Regions from separate parts of the Homo sapiens genome. Here region 2 is linked to region 1. Evidence: fine-mapped expression QTL. A gene starts in region 1. The other region holds a variant in brackets. All regions are shown on one strand. Distances are from middle to middle.

Evidence for each region. PIP is the estimated chance that this variant, and not a neighbour inherited with it, causes the effect.
Region 2: its variant is fine-mapped to the expression of CACNA2D4 in unexposed skin (GTEx, PIP above 0.99).

Annotation. Positions count from the first base shown.
Region 1 is chr12:1,915,310-1,924,132 of GRCh38, reverse strand. It overlaps CACNA2D4 (calcium voltage-gated channel auxiliary subunit alpha2delta 4), which reads left to right and starts at 5,481. Exons shown (of 38, transcript NM_172364.5): 1 at 5,481-5,886. The coding sequence starts at 5,660. RefSeq lists an enhancer at 6,832-7,408.
Region 2 is chr12:1,792,979-1,801,801 of GRCh38, reverse strand. It overlaps CACNA2D4 (calcium voltage-gated channel auxiliary subunit alpha2delta 4), which reads left to right. Exons shown (of 38, transcript NM_172364.5): 30 at 158-228; 31 at 684-759; 32 at 1,364-1,416; 33 at 1,750-1,802; 34 at 2,107-2,127; 35 at 4,267-4,384; 36 at 6,022-6,134; 37 at 6,421-6,503; 38 at 8,043-8,823. The coding sequence ends at 8,147. It overlaps LOC105369602 (a long non-coding RNA gene), which reads right to left and starts at 1,363. Exons shown (of 4, transcript XR_931549.3): 1 at 879-1,363. RefSeq lists enhancers at 3,766-4,670, 4,671-5,576, 5,688-6,255 and silencers at 4,598-4,827, 4,928-5,057, 5,398-5,727. The variant G/T (reference allele first, on the strand shown) is at 4,590.

The DNA.
Region 1 (8,823 bases):
GTGAGCCGAGATCGCGCCACTGCACTCCAGCCTGGGCGACAGAGTGAGACTCCGTCTCAAAAAAAAGAAAAAAAAATTGCCTGGGCCATGATGAAAGGCATTAGGAGTCTGAAATGCACTCTCCCTTTCAAAGCTCTGCAATCCAGCCAGACTGGCATTTTGGAGCGATGGATGTGTGAAGAATGGGAAGCAGTCTCTGGGGGATGAGGAAGTTGGGAGGGTTCTGGACTCCTGGTTTTGCCCCGGGCAGCTCTATAGCACCCCCCACACACCTCTTTTTTCTCTCTTCTTTTAAAACATTGTGCTAAAATACACGTAACTCAAAATGTACCATCGTAAGCATGTTTTAGCTCAGTGGTGCTAAATACATTCATGCGCTTGTGAAACCACCACCACCCTCCATCTCCAGAACCCTTTTCACCTTGCAGAACCAAAGCTCTGCACCCACTAAACACTAACTCCCCACTGCTCCCTCCTCCAGCCCTGGGCACCCACCATTCTGCTTTCTGTCTCTGTGAATCTGAGAACCACGTATCAATGGAATCATACAGTATTCGTCTTTCTGTGACTGGCTTATTTCACTCATAATGTCCTCAAGGTTCATCCATGTTGTAGCGTGTGTCAGGATTTCCTTCCTCTTAATAGTTCATCATGTGCAATACCACGTTTTGTTTGTTTGATGACACTTGGATTTATCCATGATCCATGTCCATCCGTGGTGGACACCCGGGTTGCTCCCACCTTCTGCTGTCGTGAATCACACTGCAATGAATAGTGGCGTACAAATACCACAGAAGGCCTTCGTGATGTCCTGTGTCACTTGAAGATGAAATGAGCCGCCGGAGACACATTCGTAAAATGAACGGGAAATGAAAGCCTTTGCCTGGCTACATGGGGGTTTCCAAACTGACCCTGGGGCCCTGGGGCTCCTGTTCAAAGGCCCCAGAGAGCGGAGGCGGAGACAAGCAGGACTTGGCCCAAGCGCCCTCACCTCCACCCAGAATCACCCCCCTTTCAATCCCTCCTTCATTCCAATCACATTTTTATTTCCTTGTGCTGAGGGACTGGGCATACAGCAGGGACAAACAGCCCGCAGGCCCTGCCCCTTATGGAGGCTGCGTGCTAGAGGAGGAGGCCTGTATATGGCACGTCCCATGATAGCCACTGAGGAGAAGAAAGATGCTGTGAAGAAGGACAGGGAACGTCAGGGGTCGGGCCAAGATGGTGGATCTTGTAGCCAGGAAAGTCTTCACTCATTAAAAAGGTGATTTTCAAAAAAAAAAAAAAGGTTTTTTAATGGAGAAGTAATTCACATGCCGTAAAATTCTCCATGTTAAAGTTTGCAGCTCGGTGCTTGACAGGCTATTCACAAAGCCGTGCGTCACTGCCCACCACTCTCTCATTCAAGGACACTTTCATCATAAAAGGTGGCGTTGAAGACCTTGAGCCGGACGCCTCCTGCTGGCCCCTCCGAGTGCTCTCCCTGCCCTGGGGGGCTGTCCTGGGGGGGGAGCGAGGGCACGCGGATAAGTCCCTAAGGTTCCCCGGGTGGAGGCACCAGCAGGAGAGCGGGGGAGGCAGAGGGTGAGTGGGTGTCCACGGCCCCAGCCCTCCCACGGGACTGCTGTGGCTGGCCGCATCCCTTGCCTGGCGGCCACAGTCCCCCCCATACAGCCTGTTCTCTCCAGGGTACAGTGGCTTTCCCGTCCCCGTCCCCGTCCCCCTCCCCGAGGCTTAGGGGCTAGCTCCCGCGGTTTCCAGCCCTGGCCACTGCAGTGTCCCTGCAGGACTCCGTCCACACCTCTGTAAATAGCCTCTCTGTTAAACTCGTCTCAAGCTGCCCGATCCAGGGGTACCAGCTCTTCCTGCAGGAAACCCGACGCCAGACACTGATGGAAATGAGAGGGCCGGCCACGCAGGGGGAAGCAGGCAGACACAGCCGCGGCGCGGACTGCAAGCTCGGGGGTCAGCCGCACCGATGGGGGGCGCGCCTGAGGCACCCAAGGAGCAGCGGGAGCCCGCGCCCAGAGAGGCGCGGTCAGGAGAAGCCAGCTCCAGCCAGGTGGGGCCTCGTGGCTGTGAATTTGGTGGCATTCATCAGCTTCTTAAAATTTGTAATTTGGAATGATTTTTAAAATCAAGCCAGCTCCAGCCAGGTGGGGCCTCGTGGCTGTGAATTTGGTGGCATTCATCAGCTTCTTAAAATTTGTAATTTGGAATGATTTTTAAAATCAAGCCAGCTCCAGCCAGGTGGGGCCTCGTGGCTGTGAATTTGGTGGCATTCATCAGCTTCTTAAAATTTGTAATTTGGAATGATTTTTAAAATCAAGCCAGCTCCAGCCAGGTGGGGCCTCGTGGCTGTGAATTTGGTGGCATTCATCAGCTTCTTAAAATTTGTAATTTGGAATGATTTTTAAAATCAAGCCAGCTCCAGCCAGGTGGGGCCTCGTGGCTGTGAATTTGGTGGCATTCATCAGCTTCTTAAAATTTGTAATTTGGAATGATTTTTAAAATCAAGCCAGCTCCAGCCAGGTGGGGCCTCGTGGCTGTGAATTTGGTGGCATTCATCAGCTTCTTAAAATTTGTAATTTGGAATGATTTTTAAAATCAAGCCAGCTCCAGCCAGGTAGGGCCTCGTGGCTGTGGTCAAAACTGTGGCTTTTCCTCTAAGGGAGATGGGCAGCCCTGGGGGCTTCGGAGCAGAGGGAGGGAGCCACAGGGTCTGACTTACGTTTGAAAAGAGCCTTCGGTTGCTGCATTAAGAATAGATGATGAGAGGCAGGGTGGGGAGGCCCGGTACCAGACAGGGGCCCGCAGGAAACAGGTGGGAAAGCTGGTTTCCAAAGGACTCCTTGGAAAGGGGTGGATGTAGGGGACGCAGGATGCAGCCCAGCTGTACCCCCTCCTCCACCAGTCAGGGAAGGAAGCCGTCGCTGGAGCCTGAAGGGGAAGTGGGCAGAGGCAGCCGCCTGGAGGCCGGCGGTGGCCTTGGGCTGAGAAGGCCTGGTTTTGAGGCTTCCTAAGTATGTCTAAGGGGCGCACAGGACACAGGCCGCCAGTGTGTCTGCGAAGGACGGAGCTTTCCAAGCCGCTGTCACGCTTGACACAGTAGAGGGAGGCGAAGGCTTTCCGGACAGGGTGCTGGAACCCCGTGGGGGCAGTGGGAGCTTGTATAATGTGGGAGTGGTTACCCATAAAAGAAAAATAATGCAAATCCCAGGTACAAACATAAAAATAAAAGTGAATATTTATTATCGAAAGCAGGATCTCGAGAGATATTTGCACACCCGTGTTGACGGCAGCATATTTCACAGTAGCCAAAAGGAGGACACCACCCCAGGGTCCATCGATAGAGGAACGGATGCACAAAATGAGGTCTATCCACACAATGAAATATTAACCCATCATTGGTCACCCCCAAAAAGTAAGGAAATTCTGACACACGCGGCACCGTGGGTGAACCTTACCGACATTGTGCTAAGTGAAATGAGCCAGTCATGGAAGGACAACTATGTGATGACTTCCCTTCTGTGAGGTCCCTAGAACCGTCAACATCAGAGATACAGAAAGGAGAGTGGTGGCCGCCAGCGGCTGGGGGAGGAGGGAACGGGAGCTAGTGTTTAATGGGTTCAGAGTTTCAGTTTTACAAGATGAACGAATTATAGAGATAGATGGCGGCGAAGGTGGAGCAACATGATTAATGTATTTAATTACACTAAACCGTACACTTAAAAAGATGATTAAGATGGCACATTTTATGCCACAATAAATATTGGGCCACAATAAAAAAGTTGAAAAAAGGTGAATATTTATTCAGTTTTAAAAATCATTCCAAATTACAAATTTTAAGAAGCTGGTGAATTCCACCAAATTCACAAAACCTAGAGAAGTTACATTCTTTTTATGTATTGACTGCCCAGTGTGCCTCTGTAGTATTTTTTCTAAATGTGTTTGATTTGTAATCCTCAAAACATGTACAAAATTTATGTGAAATTAAGGCATTCATAGGAATCATTTAGATGCCTTTAAAAAATACATTGTATTCAGCCACAAAACTGTGCCACCAGATTACTCTGATACTACAGCACTGACTTATTGATGAATCTGTGTAGGAGTTTTGTCATCAGAACACTTGCTTCTGCAAGCATTTCTCTGCGTTGGTGGCAATTTTGCTTACCATTTTGCTGGAACCACCAGATTTTGTGAAGACACAGTGCACCAGTTACACTAAGAAAATAATCTGATACGGGGACTGCATAAAATCTATGACTTCACCCCCGGAGAACCCATGTGGTACTACTACTGGTTTGGGCTCACAACACAAGAATTTTGATCAATTCTAATTTGTGTAACTCTCATCAGAACACAAAGCAATGTACGGTGTAATTATATTCTTTCAATATCCACTATTTTCCTAACAGGAGAGAACTTCTGTCCTGGCCAGGCCTTGGTGAGAACCAAATCCTCCACCAACGATGTTACCTGTGTGGCTTTTTGTAGATTTTCTGCAGATGAGCTCCTGACTGTTACTTTGCCCTCCCCACCACACATGGCCAGGGTGGGTGTGACAGCGTGCGCTCACATCACGGCCCAGCCTCTCTTGCTGCATCTGCTGGTGGGATGTCCTGTGGGATGAGTGTTCCTGGAAGCCCTGCCTACACTCAGCTGGAGGTAACTTCTCTGTACAAAGAAGTCACTGTGAACCATGTCAGCATATCCCACTAAGCCCAGATTAAGTGTTTCCCCAGCTCACTTTCCTCTTAACTGGATCCCCCAAGTGCCCTCAGCCACCCAAACATCATCCAACTAAGAGTCCCTCAGACGGAAGAGAAGTTGGGATGGAAAGAGACAGACAGTCTCAACCGGTTATGGTTAAACTATCTCAACTTTTGCATATTTTACAAAAACATTTGGCCACAGGAACACATTGCTAGGGCCTCTCCGGGAAAGGGGGGAGTCTGTGGATTCAGGGGTCCTGAAGCTTCATCAGTTGCACAGCAAATGCGTCCCCAGCCCCGCCCACGAGCAGCTGAGATGTGGAGGCGTGGGTCCACTGACTTCACCTATGACCTATGACCTGTCCCAAAGGCACCAGGCCTGGAAACACCAGCCAGAGTCCCAGCTCTGCCCCTGGGACTCCCCGGGCCTCAAGAGCCTCTGCCAAGCAGGGATGAGGACACACCCCCACCTCAGGGTCAACAAGAGATTTGTGGGTCAATCAGAGTACTGTGCAAACTCAGCTGCTGTCCTCTGGCCATAGTCACAGCAAGCCCTTCCTGGGTCCAGAAGGTGGTTCCACAGGAACGGGGCTGCCTCTTTAAAGCAGAGGGGTGCACTATAGCCCTGAGGGAACCAGCTGCAGTTGTGGTAATCTTGGGAGGCAGCTCCCCACCCCCTGCCACCCCCTCCCTGCTGTCAGGAGAGGATTAGAGGAGAGGCCAGCGGATTAAAGGGTTTCATGTTGCCACAGCCTCTCCCCCAGTCCCTGTCTCCGAGGCCTGCTTGCTAGGTGGGGCGACTCTTCTGTGAGCTGCAGCTGTGGGGCAGAGAGAAGCCCTCCCCACCCAGGACTGAGAGGCTGGAGACCCCAGGCTCGCCAAGGCACGGAAGACAAAGGCCTGGGGCGTCCTGGGGTCTGGGAGGAAGGCAGACAGAGCTCATGGTCTGTGGCTGCTCTGCCCTCCTTCCCCTCCCCAACCCCAGGCCCACCATGCCTGCAACTCCCAACTTCCTCGCAAACCCCAGCTCCAGCAGCCGCTGGATTCCCCTCCAGCCAATGCCCGTGGCCTGGGCCTTTGTGCAGAAGACCTCGGCCCTCCTGTGGCTGCTGCTTCTAGGCACCTCCCTGTCCCCTGCGTGGGGACAGGCCAAGATTCCTCTGGAAACGTAAGCATCACGTTCAACCCCACCCCAAAAACCCGGTCACCCTTTCCCACTTTCTTCCCGGGCTGGGCCTCCATCCTCTGCCCACTCCTCCCGCCCCTGCCCTCCCTCTGGGCTTTTCCCCAGTGGCTGCGACTGACCACTCTCTTGCTGTAAAGCCCTTTGCTTCTCCGGCCTCCTCTTTCTCCTCCCAAAAGCTCTGTGAGTTCTGGAGTCCCACCTGCCTCTCCCCAGGAGCCGGATGGCTTTAGGAAGAACTGATCATCAGGGCTGCTGTCTTCCTGGCCTGACAAGCAGCTTCTGGGACACCTGAAGGGCGGGTGCTCCTTCAGGATAATCGCTGAGATGAGGCAGCCTGGAGGAGCCGGGTTATCTCAGCATCGCAGCTCCCCGAAGCATTTGGCAGGAAATGCGTATTTTGACATTCCAAAAAGGGGAAGCAGTTCTGAACCCACAGAACGTCTCATGCGCACAGGAGGTGGCTTGTCCAGGAACTGGGGAAAAAAATGGATTTTGGTGGCCGCAGTCTTCCCTTTCTACACCTTTCTGCCTCCTTCCAACCTTGATTCTCTAGCCGGCCATTAAGACCGGCTCCAGGAAAGAACCCGGTATCAGTCATGTGCACCTTGGTGTACATGTAAATTACTGTGCAACCTCTCTGGGGTGTCTGTGTTTTAGGCCCTAGCTCAGGTGGTCCTAGGAAGGAAATTTCCAATACATGTGGGTAGCAGAGCCTTCTAGACTGTAGGTGCTACAGACCCCATCCTGTTTACTCCAGCCGCTTGAGCCCAGCACCATAGCCAGGCCACCAACAGAGCCACCTGCCAACTGCATGTCTTAGCAGGAGTGGGGACAGGGAGCCTAAATGACACACCGTGCCTGTGCTTAGCCTTTGCTGACCAGTGGATTAGGCAGCATCGTTTCCCATCGAGCCGCATAGCTCTCCTTGTTCCCTGCCTGGCACGGAGCTGGGCGCTTCACAAATGACACCGTTAGTTTGCAGAGCCATTCAGTGGGGGCTTATTTTTATCCCTATTTTGCAGCTGAGGAAACAGAGGCCCCGAGAGGTCAGGTGACTTCCCCAAGTTCACAAGGCCAGGAAGTGAAGGTGCTGGGATTTGAACTCCTGTCAGCCTGGACTGCACTTTCACCATTACACCCGCCGCCAGCCCGTAACGCTATCTGTTGCTGCAGGAGATGTTCAGAACAATTTTCATCCCCAGAACACACACCAGCTGATAGGAGAGGGCCAACTCCAGGAGTGGGCTGAGGGCCAAGTCGGGGTGGCTGGAATCCAGGCCTTCAGGGAGGGGGGCCCCAGCGGCCATCTATGCAGAAGCCCTGGGTGCTGCCAGAGACAACAGCCTGCACACAGCCTCATCTGCCTGCCCAGGACTTGGCCCCACCTGTCCTCACTCCCGCCGAACCTCTCTTCTCAGTCTTTCCCTCCAGCCGGGCTTCCACCTCCTCCCAAGTCTGTTTCCACAGGGTTCCCAAAGCCCTCCTCATGCCCAATCCAGGAGACATTCCTGGCCTTGTCACCCCAGACCCTGTTGCTTGGGACACACAAGCCCCCGTCTTCTTTTATCCCAGTCCTTGACTTCCGTGGCACTGCGCTCCGCTGGGCCTGCATGGGCACGGCTTATCTCTGCTGTCCTCAAGTGCTCCTCCTCCTCTGCCTGCCCCGGAGGTGGGGGGTGCTCCCCAGCAGCTGTCGACGCTCAGAGATCTCACGCTGCACACTCTCCTTGAGAGAGCCCTCCTGCCCTCAGAATTTCAATCCCTACCTTTGCATCAATGACTCCCAGCCCTGTCTCTACCTACTAGACACATACCCAGTGCTTATGGGCAGCTTTTCCTAAACATCATGTGAGGTTTTAAATTCAGATTTGTGTCTTTCAAGGTAAAACACAATTGGTGCCTTCTAGAGTTGTGCAGTGCACAACCTTCCCAATGGTACTTGGTAGCTCTACAACGGGAACCTCACATTCAGCAGAGCCCAAGGTACACACATCACTTTTCACCCTCCTCAGCTCATTCCCCCTGCCCTTCCTGATAGTCTTAATTGTATTCAGTAACAACACCATCAGGTCAACAACCCACACTGGAAGCCCGGAAGTCACGTTTTACTCCTCCAAGCTCTTCTGTACTCCCGACCTAGAATCCTCTCCCAGACCCCTTTGCAGGCTAACCTCTACCAAACTTCTAACCTGGAGCTCAGATCTCCCTCCCCAGGGAAGCCTTCCCTTATACCACTACCCCTCCCCAACCTTCATGGGCACCTTCAAACATGTACTATGCTACCCGCATGACAAAGCTGTCCCTGCAAGGGTGGGGACTGTGGGGTGGCTCCAGGCTGCCACATGGTAGGACCTTGATAAACATTGGTTGAGTGATGACTGCTGATCTTGAAAGGATCGCACAGGCAAACCACTTCCGCTCCATCTGGAGAGGCTCAGCCCCAGCCCTGTGTACCTGCCCCCAGGACCCCACCAGCCTGGCCAAGATGGTGGGATTGTGGTGCATTTCTGGGGCATGGGCGAGAGGTCGGGGCTCCCCACTAGGCTGCCTACACAGAGGGTGAGGTGTGGCCTCCTTATGCCCTCCTGGCCTGCCCTGCCCTCAGGCTCAGCAGTGGCAGCTCAGAGCCTTTTCCTGCTGTGCCCTTGCCTCACGCGTTCTCTGAGGTTTCAACAGAGGGTTCGGCAGCCCCCAGTGGCTTTGAGTGGAGTGCACTGGAGGGAACGATTTATTGAGAGGCCACAGCTGTGGCCAGGCAGGTTGTCCTTTGTCCTCAGGGTCCTCCGGCCCTGGCCTGAGGCTGTCCACTGCCTCTCCCCTCCTTCTCTCCTCTCAGTCTGCCACTCTCCAACCAGAGGCCCTGGAAGCTTGGGGTCAAGCTCAGTCCTGGGCTCGTCAGCCCGGCCCCACAACCCTCAG
Region 2 (8,823 bases), 120 kb after region 1:
AAGGGTTCAGCTGGATTATGCTGAGAGGCAGTCAGAGGGAAAGCCCAACTGGCACCAAAAGCCTCGACCTGAGCTGAATAAATAGTGCTGGACTCGGAAGGCTCCATCCTGCTCCATCTCTCTCCCTCCCTCTCTCTCTGCTGTCCCTCTCTCACAGACGGGAAGATTTCTGGGGGAGGTGGATGGTGCTGTCCTGACCCAGCTGCTCAGCATGGGGGTGTTCAGCCAGTAAGTGGGGCACACTCCTCCCCAGTCCAAATAGACACAGCAAACCGAGAGCTGACGCTAAGTGGTCCTGGCGGATCTCAGGATCCTGACCTCCAAAACCCACAGTGGGTGCCCCCAAAGAGCTGCAAAAGCAACCTTTATGGAGCCAGGGCGTCAGCATGATGTGGGGAGGGCGTAAGGGCATGTGGGCATCCCTGGGAGGGGCTCCGCAGCTCAGACCCTAGAGGGAAAACCGTCCAACTCCGAGGGCAAAAGCCATTTGCTCTTCATTGTCTTTAAACCATTCCAAGTGCAGAAATGTAATTTTCAGCATGAGCTGTATTCTGATCTGCTGTCCTAGCTCAGGCGCCCTTGGGAATTGCGGTAAACGGATGCTCTGCTAGTAAAGCCTCCTGAGGCAGGGGCAGGGGGTGGGGGTGGCTTTGGACTCATCACAGCCCGCTTCTGATTTTCAGAGTGACTATGTATGACTATCAGGCCATGTGCAAACCCTCGAGTCACCACCACAGTGCAGCCCAGCCCCTGGTCAGCGTGAGTGTCACCCAGCCCTTCCCTCTGCCAGCCAGCCAGCCAGTCCTCTGCCCTGTCCTGGAATGAGGTCACTGGTCCCTGTTCTCACCCACCTTGGGTGTCTGGCCCCAGGGCCCTACCTTGACCATCTCCATCTTCTGCTCAGAGCCACTGCTCTCAGTCCCACTCCCAGGCAGGCCTCTGGGTCTGGCTTTGGGGCTTCAGAGGGACTGCTCTGGTAGTTGTGACACAACAGTGCCTCTGGCGGAGACAGAGAGAGCAGCCTGCCCCAGCCTCAGCCCCTGACACTGCCGCTTGATCACCAGGGATCCTCAGCAGTGCAGCACCAGGATGAGGGCTTGACTCGTCTCCTGGAGGGGCATGTCCAACCCCACCCGAGATGTCTGACCTGCAATAGGCATTTCCCAGCTAGCTCAGCTCTGCAGGGCAGGTGGGAGGTGGGGGGATGGGGGGTGCTGGGCTGCTGGCCTGTGCTCTGCTGCCCCTGCTCCCAGTGGCAGGGCAGCCCACTCTCTGGTCTCTCTGAGGGTGGTGCTGGTGGTGGGGGGGGGGCACCCTCACCCTTGGACCTAGGTGCGAGCGGTGTGCACTCTCTCCTTCCCAGCCAATTTCTGCCTTCTTGACGGCGACCAGGTGGCTGCTGCAGGAGCTGGTGCTGTGAGTGGGGGTAGACACGGGGCTGGTGGAGGGCTGCATGCGAGGGTGGCTTAGGAGGGTGTCCTTGAGCAGGAGGCTGCAAGGTCTCCAGGACAACCCACTTGCTACCAGACCCCGGGGAAGGAGGGCACAATCCCTGGGCATGGACGCCACCTCTTCCCTGCATGCTGCCCCTGGGAGGGACCTCATTGCTCAACCAGAGCCCTCAAGCAGGGAAGAGGGTGTCCTGGAGGAGAGGGGATGGGCCGGGGGCTGTCAGGGATACTCCAGCTCCTTGGGAACCCAAGTCGGGAGGGCTCAGAGGTCTCCGAGATTCAGTCCTGTGTCTGACAGGTTCCTGCTGGAGTGGAGTGTCTGGGGCTCCTGGTACGACAGAGGGGCCGAGGGTGAGTGCACGGAGCTGCAGGGCCATGTGCTGAAGAGCAGTGGCATTTTGGTCCACTAACGTGAGACCATTCCCTGTGGGGTGGGTGACAGTGGGGATAGGTGACCCTGAAGCATCGTTGTTCACATCTCACCCTGCGTGGCCTTCTCTCATCACATCCCTCACTCCTGGCTCTGTGTGTGACATCATCTTGGGACACCGCCACTCCATGTGCCATCATCACCACCCCATGACATCCTGCCCTCATGTGCCACCATGTTTTCCTGTGCCGTGTCCACCCTGTGCTGGGCTTATGTTCCGGCCAGCCAAAAGTGTCTTCCATCACTGTAAGTAGCCCAGCTGAGGCCATCCCTGCTGGCGGTGGGTTGGGGACGCAGCAGGAGCTACAAAGAACCCACCCTCCATGACCTGTCCCAGGAATGACCCCAAGCAGGGCTGAGCTCTCCTGGTTTAAAGTACCATTCCTGGGGGTTGGGGGACTGGGGAGTCTAGCCCAGTTCTCATCCCACATGAGGACGGTCAGGCCCCAGGGAAAATGAGAAACTCCAGCCTCCCCTTGGGTGAGAACACGTAAGATTCCAAGAGGAAGCCGGTGGTGTGGCCGGGTGGCCATGAGCCAGTATGAGTGAGCAACCTCCAGCCCACCCCTTGGAGAAGCAAACAGCGGCACCCCAGCCCTCAGCGGGACTCCGGGTTCCAGGGGCCCCAGGAAGCTCTCAGGATGATTCCCCTGCGGGACCCTGTGTCTGAGGACAGAGTCCCCCAGAGGCAGCAACCATGAGAGGCCCCAACACAAAGCCCGGTGGCTGTGGCCACACGTGCAGGGCGGCAATGAGCCTGGCCTTTCAAAGCACTCACTGCCCGGGCGCCTGGGCCCTCCATGACTGCAGGAGGCCATCTTGCCTCAGCGGGCTCTGCTCAGTTCCTCCGTGTTCCTAGAACCTTTGCCATGGGGTTCCAGAACTTCCCACCACCTGGGCTGTCCCCAGCTTATCCCATCTCTTCATCTCCACTGTGGTCCTCTCTCTGGCTTGCTCTTCGTTCTCTTCTGCTGGCCTTGGCTTGGGGCTTCCTCTGCCCCTGGGCTCAGGGCAGTTCGGGCTGTGTCTCCAGACTCCTTCTGGACTCACATCCGCGATCGGGTGGGGCTGCTCTGGGGTGTTCACAGTCACTAGGTGTCAGTGACAGGACACTGTCCCCTCTGTCTCTGTCAGCAGCTGCATCTTGCAAAAGTTGAAGATGATCCCCCTCAATCTGCCTGCTCAGAATTTCTCTTCTCTGGGGTACCTGTCCCCTGGAGCTCCTCCCCCTGGTCTGGCCTACACAGATGTCAGTGTCCCCAGTGAAGGCGCACTGGACTTGGAGTCCCAGGCCGGGGCGTAGGTGCTGCAGCCCCTTCCACTGCGTGACCCTGGGGACGCCACTCAACCCTGCCATTGTCAGGCAGGCTTCTGTGCCCAGCCCTGGGGACAAAACTCACAGCCCTGGCCGCTGTGGGCTTGCTCCTCTCGGTGAGAGTTTTCTGCACGCCAGCTAGTGTCCCCTCTGGGTTTCCAGCTCTGGCTGGGAGCTTCTGGATTTGGAAGCTGGGGAGACCCATGCTCTCCTGTAGGACTCTGCATGAGCCTGGGAAGGTAGCTCACACCTGTGCTCCCTGCCTCTAGGTCTATCCCTGGGGGCCACAGCCAGGCCCTGAGAACAGAAGGGCCATGCAGACAGCCTGTGTGGCAGGGCCCTGCTCTGCCATGTGCCCACCTCAGGAGGCTCCGGGAGGGAACGGACTCGGGTCCTGCAGAGCGGGGCTGAGGCACTCGCCTCCACCTTTGGTTGAGTCCACTGTCCTTGTCCCAGGGAGCTAAGGCAAATCGCGCAGCCCCCGAGGAGTCCCGCACCGGGTGGCTGTGGCTTCTGGGCTTCCGCAGCCCCAGGCCTGGAGCCCACCTGCCCGGCTGCCCCCACCGCAGGCGCTCAGGCTCAATGGGTGGAGTGTGGGCCTGGCTGTGCGGGAGAGCAGGGCAGGATTGCCCAGGAACTGCACTGCGTCTGTCCACAGTGAAGGGAGGGGTGGTGGGCCTAAGTACCCCCAAGCCACCCCTTGGTGCCCCTACTGCCTCTGCTCCCCGCTCAGACCCTCCCCCGGGATCTGAGTGCTGGAAGGGGCCCTGGAGATGGTGCACTGCCCCCAGCTCAGTGAGGGCCAGGCTCCCCAGAGGAAGCGCTTTCCCTCCACCGAGGCTCAGGGCCCCTGCGGCGCTCCCCGTGCCAAGCCACCCTCTCCAGAGACTCCGGGTGTCTTCCCTCCCCTCACCCCCCGCCCGGCTCCTCCCACGCGTGTCCTGAGAACTGCCTGAGGAGGGACCCTCTGCAAATGCACTGGGGTGAACTCTGGCCCTGGGAGTGCCGAGGCGAGGTCACCGCAGGCCAGAGGCCCCTTCGGTGGCGTGATGTCCTTTCTCCGCCCGCAGCCCACAAACACAAGAAGCAGGACCCGCTGCAGCCCTGCGACACGGAGTACCCCGTGTTCGTGTACCAGCCGGCCATCCGGGAGGCCAACGGGATCGTGGAGTGCGGGCCCTGCCAGAAGTAAGACCGCAGGGCGGCGCCGCCCGTCCCGCCACACTCCTCCCGCCCTCGGCAAGGCGGAAGTGCGGGCAGGGCCCCGGAACCCCCGGGAAACGGCTCCACAGCCGGGAGGAGGGGATGCGTCTAAGTGCAGAGCCCACGCTCCCGGGGTCTTCCCCCGCCGTCCTCAGTGGAGGAGACACGCAGGAGGCGGACGGTCTGAGGC[G/T]GGCAGGACGGCTGGGGACCGGGACAGCCGGGATGGGGAGAGGTGGTCCCGAGGCCTGACCCTGTGTGTCGAGCCCACCCCGCCGAGGCCGCAGCCGTGACCCCACGGCGTCTCTGGGCGAGTGGGCCCTTCGGCGGGTCTCCCCCAGCCCTGCTCAGGCGGTGCCCAGGGCGGTGCCAGTGCCCGCGCCTGAGCTGCGTGGGGAGAACTTGGAAGGCAGAGGGAGTGTGAGAAGAGAAGGCCGGAAGTGTGCGATGTCCTCGGGTCGCTGGGAGCCCCGCGGGCAGCCTCTGTCAGGCTTCCTGCTGTGTGGAAGCCGCTAGTTATAACCCGCCCTGGCCCCGGGGAGGCAGGGAGGCCGCGCGGAAGGGTCTCTCCTGCTGACCCCCCGCACCCAAGCCCGGGAGGACCCCCACGCTGGGAATGCGGCGGCCTCCTCGAGGGTCGCCTCAGCCAGACGTGCCGCTCGCCAGGCGGTCCCTAGACCCCCGGGCCCGTGGCACACCATTTAACAGTGCGGCACCTGCGGCGCTGGCATCGGGGCTCCCTTCTCCCCCACTCCCTGCGCGTCGTGCTGCGCGGGTTTCACCCCGGGTTCTGTGCAGCGTTGAGGGCTGGGGTTAGCGTTCCCTGTGCACTTGTCGCAAAGGCTCGGTGCGAGGATAGAGCCAGCGGGCTCCGGAGTGAAGCGAGGGCTTCAGAGTAGACACTCCTGAATTGAAAACTGGCTCTGCGCTCCCCCGCTTATGACCGTGGGCAAGTGACTTCGCCTCCTCTAGTCTCCATTCTCTCATCTGCAAAATGGGCACAACACCAGCCTCATACAGAGCCGTGAAGGCTGAGAGTATACACGGCTGTGGTGTGCACGTTGGGTGTGTGAGACCGCCCATCCCAGGGGAGGCGCTCGGTAGGCGGCCGCTGGGACTGCTGGGAAGGCCGTGGGCCTGGCGGGCGGGCTCCGCCCCACTCCGCGCCACTCCTCGCAGGGCGGCCTCGCCGAGCGCGGGGCCACTGCGCCACCTGGTGGCCAAGCTCCAGCGCTGCCGCTTCGCCCGGGCCTGCCCCCGCCACCCTCACCCAGAGCAAGTGTTGCCTCGCCCGCCCATTTGCTCCGGACGGTCTTGATTTACGCCTGTCGTCCCTGCATATATTAATAGCAACTCTGCACTCTCCAAAGCGGCCCAGTTTGGACTTCCTCACTGTCTCCAGTCTGCTAGGAAAGGAAATGCAGCAGCAAAGGCTTGTGAGCAAAGCCAGTAGGACTGAGCCATCTGCCAGGCCCGTTCCCTTAGCTGCCCCGACCCGCCCTGCCTCATGGTTCCGGGCTTCCCTGCCACCCTAACTCCACACTAAAGTCTCCAGAAGTTCCTTCCCTAGAAGCCCTTCTCGTGGTCGCCACGGAGCCATCCTCGACTCCCTTTCTTTGCTGCAGGGTATTTGTGGTGCAGCAGATTCCCAACAGTAACCTCCTCCTCCTGGTGACAGACCCCACCTGTGACTGCAGCATCTTCCCACCAGTGCTGCAGGAGGCGACAGAAGTCAAATATATCCTGCAATGCTCGGGGATGTGTGCGGTGGGGGCGGGGGCTGTAGGAGGTGTCTGTAGGGCTCAGATTTTGAGCAGCGGGGCCAGCCTCCTTCACCGCCCGTGTCCTCCACAGGGCTCCGTTATTTGTTCTCTAACCCTTCCCTGGGCCCCGGTGCTGCCTCCTGACCCTAAAGCTGCTTGCAGGGCAACTGGTGGCACCAGAGCAGGTTCTTCCAGACCTTTTTCCAGTCTGCAGAATGGGCTCCGGTCCTGAGATATTGACCTTAACAGTGGCTTCTGCACATAATGCCTCTGTCAAATGTGACCGGATGCGCTCCCAGAAGCTCCGCCGGCGACCAGACTCCTGCCACGCCTTCCATCCAGAGGTGCGGGTTGAGGCGGATCGAGGGTGGGCTGGATTTTCATCCCCAAACCCTCTGTGCCTGGGTCTGTGCCCCTGCAGACAGGAGCATATAGGGATGCCAATGAACACACCTGTGCCTGTGCTTCTCGGGGGAAACATTCGCGTTTATGCCCTGTGACACTGTGATATAATAAGAAACAGATCTTTATTTAGTCTTTGTCCTGATTCCTGGCAAGCTCCTAAAACGCTTGTTATTTCCTGATTAGGGTGATAGGTGCATCTTTTGTTATAGTGTTTGGTCTTAGTCCCTGGTTCCTTCACAGGTGCCTCTAAGACCCTTGGAATGATAGAGGTATCTTTGTATGCTAATTAGATGACTGGTGGCTGGGGGCCCTAGACAGGATGAGAGCTGGCCACAGGAAACACCAAGTTAGGATTAGAGGGTTGGGACTTTTGGCTCCAAGCCCCTGGCTTCTGGGAAAGGAAGGGGGCTGGAGACTGAGTTGATCACCAGTGGCCAAAGATTTAATCAATGATCATAATGAGGCCTCCATAAAATCCCCGAGCCACTGTGTTTGGAGAGTGTCCGAATTGGTGAAAGGGTGTGGGAGCTCTGCGTACCCCGTGCCTTGGCCTACGTGTCTCTTCCACTCAGCCGCCTGACCTGCGTCCTTTATAATAAACGGGTCATGGTGAGGGAAGCACCTTCCTGAGTTGAGTGAGCCACGCTAACAACTCACGGAGCCTGAGACAGGCTCATGGGAACCCTAGATTTACAGCCAGTCTGTCAGAAGGACAGGAGACCTGGGGCTTGCGATTGGCATCTGAAGTGACGGCCACCTTGTGGGACCGAGCCCTGTAACTTGCGAGCTCTAATGCTAACTCTCAATAGTGTCAGACTTGAATTGAGTTTCAGGACAGACACCCAGTTGGTGTCCAGAGAGTGGGGTGGGAAAAACCCTTCACATTTGTTGAAGTGCTGGTGTGAAAGCACAGCAGAGCCCCTGTGTCATTAAAATACGAAGTCAACCAGGATCCCAAGGTGCTTTAACGAAGAGCCACGCTTCCTAGGGCTTGGGCCCTAGGTGAATTAGAATGCAGTTTTCCCATCTTGTCCTCATTCCCGCTACACTTAGTTCCGAATGATCGAGCAATGTGAGGGGGCCGTCACGTGGATAATAGTCATAGTGGCTGGTACGGATCCAGAACCCAGACCCAGGTGTCAGGCCCTGAGCCGGGTGCTTCATACAGTCTGGTCTGCTGGGACCAGAAACCCCCATCAGAGATGCTCCCAGAGTTGAGGACATTCTGAGAGGATGACCTCGCAGCCACTCCAAGCCTGAGGGCAAGCAGAGAAGGCCGGTGCCCCCCTCCCAGGCTGAGGGGCCAGCCTTTGCTTTTCCCCCAAAAGGTAGGGGCCTAAGAGAGGTAGCAGTGCTTCCCCGGCTTTCCAAAACTCCCCTTTCCCCAGGATTTTGGCCCAAATTAGTGGTGGAAGCCCCTCCCTTTTTGAGGGTCCTCCTCTGAGCGCCGCGCTGTCACCTCTGCTCTGCGTTCGCAGGAGAATGCCCAGGACTGCGGCGGCGCCTCGGACACCTCAGCCTCGCCGCCCCTACTCCTGCTGCCTGTGTGTGCCTGGGGGCTACTGCCCCAACTCCTGCGGTGACACCACCCAGCCTGACCTGTGTTTTGGCAAGGTGATCCTTCCAGAGCCATCCCAAAAAGTCAGCACTGACATGGGATGCAGCTAACTGCAGTTGGGTCGCCCCCAGGCCAACGCTCCTCTCAATCCTGGGCTGGTGGCCCCTGGCTCCGGAGAATGCTGGATGGAACAGGAAACCAATCACCTGGCACCACTTTCAAGATGCTTCATGGTGCCCGGTACCATCTGCCCTAGGTCTCAACATGAGCATACTTCTGACCTAACCTTCCTGTCTCCTCTTCGGGAAGCCAGCGTGAGCTCAGCTTGGACCAAGACAAAATAATTTAGTTCTTCCTGTACTCCAGAGTCCAGACCCAGCCAAGAAAGGGTCAGTTGTTTCTGACCCTTTCTGTCGGAGTGGTCTCTGGTAGAACCCAAGGACTTCTGGGTACTGAGAAGCAGCAGCAGAATGAGGCCAAATGCAGAGATGAGGCTAAGGCAAGAATATGCCCCAACTAAAGCATAGATTCCCCAAAGTGAGGCTCATGGTGGGAGGCCACTCACCTTCCTAGCTGCTGCTCGAAAAGGTTTTGACTGTGTTGGGGTGGGGGTTGGGTAAGGGAATGGTCAAGACTGAGAAAGGAATGAAATCCATTCAGGAAATATCGACAGGGCTACACGTGATGTCCCCAAACTGCTG